Linked DNA regions of Homo sapiens: region 2 is linked to region 1. The links come from fine-mapping of genetic effects on gene expression. A gene starts in region 1. The other region holds a variant in brackets. All regions are shown on one strand. Distances are between the middles of the regions.

What was found. PIP is the estimated chance that this variant, and not a neighbour inherited with it, causes the effect.
Region 2: its variant is fine-mapped to the expression of TREM1 in B cells (Schmiedel 2018, PIP 0.95).

The regions. Positions count from the first base shown.
Region 1 is chr6:41,285,191-41,288,109 of GRCh38, forward strand. It overlaps TREM1 (triggering receptor expressed on myeloid cells 1), which reads right to left and starts at 1,492. Exons shown (of 4, transcript NM_018643.5): 1 at 1,417-1,492. The coding sequence starts at 1,465.
Region 2 is chr6:41,314,026-41,316,944 of GRCh38, forward strand. No RefSeq gene overlaps it. Among named protein-coding and RNA genes, the nearest start is that of NCR2, 20 kb to the right of the region's middle. The variant T/G (reference allele first, on the strand shown) is at 1,429.

The DNA.
Region 1 (2,919 bases):
CTCACAGAAGGAAGGAGACAATAAGAAATGAAGGCTGCTGAGCTGTCTGTGCACAATTGCAAGAAGGGAATTCCTTTGAATATGTTAATTAAAAGGGTAGCAAATACTACCTATTAAGTATTATGTGCTAAGGGTTTTTAAAGACTATCTTATTTAATCTTTATAAAGTAAAAAGTTGACACCATTATTCTCCCCATTTTATAGATAAGGAAACTGAGGCACAGACAGATTAAGTGATTTGCCCAAAGTCTCACCATAGTTAAGTACTAGAGCCAGGATTCAAACCCAAGGACTCTGGTTCCACCTAAAGCACTGAGCTACATGGTCCAACACAGTCTGATAGGGATTAGAGAAGTCCTGGCCCAAGTGTGAATAAGTATCCAGTTGCAAGGAGCATTGAGGTTAACCCCTAACCTATCCCCACAGGGCACAATGAAATATATACCACTGGTTTTCTCTCACACAGGTACATAACCTTCAGCCCTCTGCCATCTCCCAGTTCTCCTTCAGAAAAACATGAATCAAACACAAGGAAATGCACTTGTCCATGAGGAGCTAACTCCCTTCTGCCCATCTAGATTATCACCCCAGCTCCAAGAAGACCCAGAGCAATGTCTGAGCACAGGCTCTTCAAGGCAGTTGTCCATGACTTTGCTCAAAGTAGAGAGCCCAGGAGGATACCTCTCCCTGATTTTTCATGCCTTCCCAAGGCAAGCCTCGCTTTTAACTCATATTGACACTTTCCTCCTGTTATTCATAAGGATTAGGAGGAGGAGTGAATAAAGCCCGCATGCTTCTGGTTTGGGTGCAGATGTGAGCTGTGCGGATCGTAAGAGGAGACACAAGAAAGAGCTGGGGCATGCGCCGGCTCTGCTGAGCCTCAGCAACTGTGCCCTCCAACCCCAGCGTGCCATGGAGAGCTGGGATGATCACCTCCACCAAAATGAGCACCAGCCTCTTCTGGTCACGTCTGTGTCCTCAGCAGTAGTATATTTGCTGTCCCATAGTAGACCCCTGGGAAATATTTGTTAAATCAATTCTGTCTTTTGGGTTTAACAGATTGTCAACATCAAACACATCATGATGGAATATAAGAAAAAAATTTCAACATCAAATAAACTTATTGTAGATCATGCCATGATGAGATCTACTCTATCATTATTCCCATACTAGGCTTTGCATGTCTCTAACAACATCGACATGCACAGACATCTTTTTTCCCTGACTCTCTCCTTCTTTTACTTTTGTGTGCAGACACTGCATGTTCTCCCAATTCTGGGTAGAGCAGCACGGTCTGCCATAACTACTGGTTGGCTCTATCTTGGATGGCCCTGTGCTCTGAAGCTTCAACAGAAAAGGGCTCCCCGAGATCCTGGACCAAACGCCTCCCCTGCTCAGTCCTCTTCCTTGTCTTACCTGAGACAAAGAGCATCCACAGCAGCCCCCAGAGCCTGGTCTTCCTCATCCTTCCTGTGCACCAGCTCCAACTGCTGCTGAGGGCTCCCGGGACAGCTACAAGGCACCACAATGACCTAGAGGCTTCGGAAAGTTGCACAACAGGATATGAGGCCATTCCTGGGAGTCACTGAGTTTGGGTTCTGTTTCATCACCAGTTGCTCTGACTCCTGACATCAACACAATAATACAGAGACCAAGACTCACTTCTCAGTTAAGTTTCTTTGAACTCCAGTTTTCCTTTCTGTGGTAATAATGACAATTACCTTTCAACCTTACAAAATCTAAGGGAGAATGATACTTGAATGTAAATCAAAGTAAGGCATTCATATTAGGAAGGGGAACAGAGGGCCCTTTGCTCTCCAGAGGCCCCCTCTCCATTCACATCCAGTTTAGTGTAGTGAAGAGAGTCAGGCCCACATAGGGAGAGGCTGCGACAATCGTATCTCATCTTCAGGGTTTTTGTGAGAACATGTTGCTTCATCCTGCCCTGCTCAGCCCCGTGGGTTCTCTTGGCTTCTGGTGACCTGGGGTGCACCTCCTCTTCATCACCAGGAGGGCCACACCCTGCATTTGTCCTTCAGCATTGCCACAGACATGGCCTGGGAGCTCACGGGGGTGTAGGGACCCCAGAAACAATTTGAGAGGACACTGCCACCACCCAACAAGAACAGACTTAGATTTAAAAAGGAAACTTGGTTCAAGACGCTGAAGCAAGAAGAAAAAATCCAGCAGGTTTTGTACTAGAAGCAAGAAAAGACAGATTTGACAGTGTGAAAATCAAATCAATAATGGAGAGGATTCACTTCAGAAATATTCCCAAATGTGAAATGAATAAAGACATTTAGAAGAGCTCAGAAATTTAAGGGAGGACAAATCACAGAATTCCAATCTACAAATCAGAGATGTCCTTAAAGCATAAAATGGAATGGTGGATCACAAGCAAGATTAAAAATTTTATCTTAAAAAATATGCTTTCCAGGTCTGAGAAGAAATCTAAAATTGGAGGTTGAGAGTTCAACATGGGCAAGGAAAAAATTCACAAAGTGAGACCTAGAATAGGAAGTTTCCAGGTGAAAATTTTTAAATTTAAATAAAAAGATTCCTACTGCTAAATAAACAAAAAAATAACTTGGTTTCTTCAAAGGAATTGAAATAATCAGGACTCAGATTTCTTCTCTGAGTAACAAATACCATGAGAGAGTGGGATGAGGTATAAAGAACATTATGACCCTAATATTTTACACCCAAATTGATTGCTACTCAAGTATAGGAACAGCTAAAAGGTACTATCATGTCTGTAAATTAAAACAAACAACAACCAAAAAAATTTTCAAGGCTAACTTTAATTTTTTTTATTAAAGCTGTTCAATGCAGCAATTTATAAAATATAGAAAATAATACATAAACTTAAATCATGTTATTACACTTTATAGAGATCATTTGTAGTGGAGATTTTACTAT
Region 2 (2,919 bases), 29 kb after region 1:
CAGGGCACCAGCCCCACTGTGGGCTCACAGCATCCAATTATCTTTAGAATTTTGTTACCCAGGCCTGAGAAAAAGCTCTCAAGTGAAAGAGAAGAAAGAAACTAAACAGAGAATAGTGAAGGCAACTGGGAAGAAACAGAGACCACCTAAGGAACCATAAATAAAAACAGAAAACTTTTTCTCCAAGGGCTGTTTCCAAAACAGAGGGAGGCAGAGAGAGAATGAGAACAACAGAGAAATGGGAGAGAAAAAAAAAGAAAAAGACAACTGATCCAGGAGGTGAATGCTTGAATAAAAGGAGTTCTAGAAAGACAGAACATAGAAAACAGAGAGGGGAAAATCATGCATGAACTAATTCAAGAAATTTTCCTGTGAATTTCTAGATCGAAAAGGCCACTCACTGTGCGGAGCAAAGGGATGGAAATAGACACACTCCAAGGCTCATCCCTGTGACATTCCAGGACACCGAGAACAAAAAGAAAACGCTGATAAAGTGAAGACAACAGATCACATATTGCCATAGTTATCATAATTGCTCCTGACTTTTCAACAACAATAGGAGCAAGAAGGTAACATAGCAATGCCTTCAAAATCCTGAGGACAAATTGTTTCCAACTCAGAATTTTTTATATCAGTCAAACTGTCATGGTAAAACAGGCATTTTTAAATATAAAAGTTGTCAAAATGTATTTTCCATTCCCCCTTTCTCCCGTAGTTACTCAAGGATGGGTTCCACCAGTACAAAGGAGTAAACAAAGATCCAAGAATCAAGAAAACGTTGTAGAGGAGACAAAGAGAAGCCCCAGAAACATGAGGAAGAGACAGCTGTGTACCAACTGGTGGAGGCAGTGCATCCATACAGGGCAAAAAAAGGCTGCAGGCATGACTTTTTAGGAAGATGCTCAACAAAATACTTGCTGAGAAAAAAAAAAACAAAACTTAGAAATGCTGGTTCCAAAACATGTGCTTTTGTTTGTTTGTTTTTTCTTGTTCTGACTTTTAATTCATTACACCACTGCTCTCCAAGAAAAGGCTATCAATTATTCCCTTCCAACAATGCATAAGAATGACTTTTTCCCTACTTCTCCAGGACAGAATATAATTATCATTTATTTTAATCTTTTTTGAACTGTTAAAAAGATAAACTGAGGCACAGTAAAATTTTAAAGAGTTTTGGTGAGTTTTTTTTAGCATGAACAATTTATGAACTGAGCAGCTCCGAACCAGAAATAGTTTGGGAGCTCCACTGAGGAACACAAAGAGGAGACTTTTATAAGACAGACACAGAAGTAAAGCAAAGTATTTAATTGGTTACTGTTATACAATTGCTTTTTTTGGTCTCTCAACTTGGAAAGCCCCTCGTTATCTAAGTTTGTATAAATAGTAACTTCTGATTGGTTGAGCTTAAGTTCTGCTTTTAAAAATATA[T/G]ATATAGATATAGATATATATAGGCATTCACAAGAAATAGCTCAAGTTAAGTTTGGTTATGTTTGCAAATCAAGCAAGGTTTAGGTCACTTACAAATCATAACTTCTTTTGTCCCCTCTGGGATTCTTCAGGTCTGGTCTCCATTTTAATTTACTTTAACAATCCCACCGCGTTGGGTCACCCTCTCAGCAAGCTAAGAAGAAGGTGGTAGCATTCCTCTCAGTTACCACTAGTGAAATAGTCACTGGAACAAAGAGTCATGTAATCTTATCCTCAACAGTTGTATTGGGATATAAGATTACATGGCATCATTACCTGCATCATGGGCTTCAGTGGTAGGGTTGTTGAGTTCTTCAAGTCAATTAATGATGATGGCAATCATTTGATGTGTGAGTGCCTTCTGGAAAGCTTTGAAATCCTTGAGAGGATAAGATATAGTAGGATGGTAAACAAAATGACTACAGAGAGAATAATAGCCAAGGATTTTTAAATTCCCTGGAGCACAGATTCCCAGGAGCCAATATTTCACCAATAAAATAAATCAGTGGAGGAGGCAACACCTGTCTGATAAAAGACATATTTGTTCCTTAAGATCCTTTAAATTGGGCTCAACAATTTCTAATTTATTAATATAGAAACAATATTTTTTTTTACAAATAAGAGCCTCCTTGTTAAGTTGCTAAGGTATCAAGGACTTCTATTTTGGAGTACTATTGAGGTTAAATTGTTTATTTCAGATAGTATTGCTTGAAGGGAATTCAAGGTAGCATTCTATAAAAACAAAAGAAAAAAAAAAGGTTAACATTAGGAACAAATTATGATCTTAGTCTTTAAGTCCAGAGAGCAGCCTGTCAAGATTTCTAAATTTGAGTTTGAAGCATTTTTAGATGATGGAATGAGGATGGCAATTGCAACCTGATGGATTTTCCTGGCTTGCAGTTTGAATGTCTCTGGAAATATCATCAGGTGTTCCAGTGAATTCTCCAAGTGACCCACACAGCAGCAGCATGAAAATTTTCCATACATGGTCTGTTGTAGTAATTTTTCTGAATTTAAAGTCATCCAATTTCAGCTGGCAGGGCTTCGGAAAAAAGCAGTTTTAGTTTCTAGTGAAACTAGAAAATGTTAGGATTCAATCCAATTTACAAGGACATAACAAAGACCAGAATTTGATGATGGGTGCTATAGTTTTCTATTGAAATACAATCTTTTTTATGGTCATTCCAAATTTTTCCAAAAATAATCATGGTTAACTCTTCTTTTTGTGCAAAATCAGTAGTCTCATTAAACTTGATCTGATTATTTACATAAGTGCAACAAGAAAAGTGATTCTATGTATGCATATTTTTAAAATACATCATTTTGTCAAAGTTTTGATAATATCCAAGGGGCTTTATTGACTTTGTATAAGTCAATCTTAGTTATTTGTTCATTTTATTGTTTGTTTTACTATTTGTTAACAAGGAATCTCAGATTAGACCTTTAAAAACC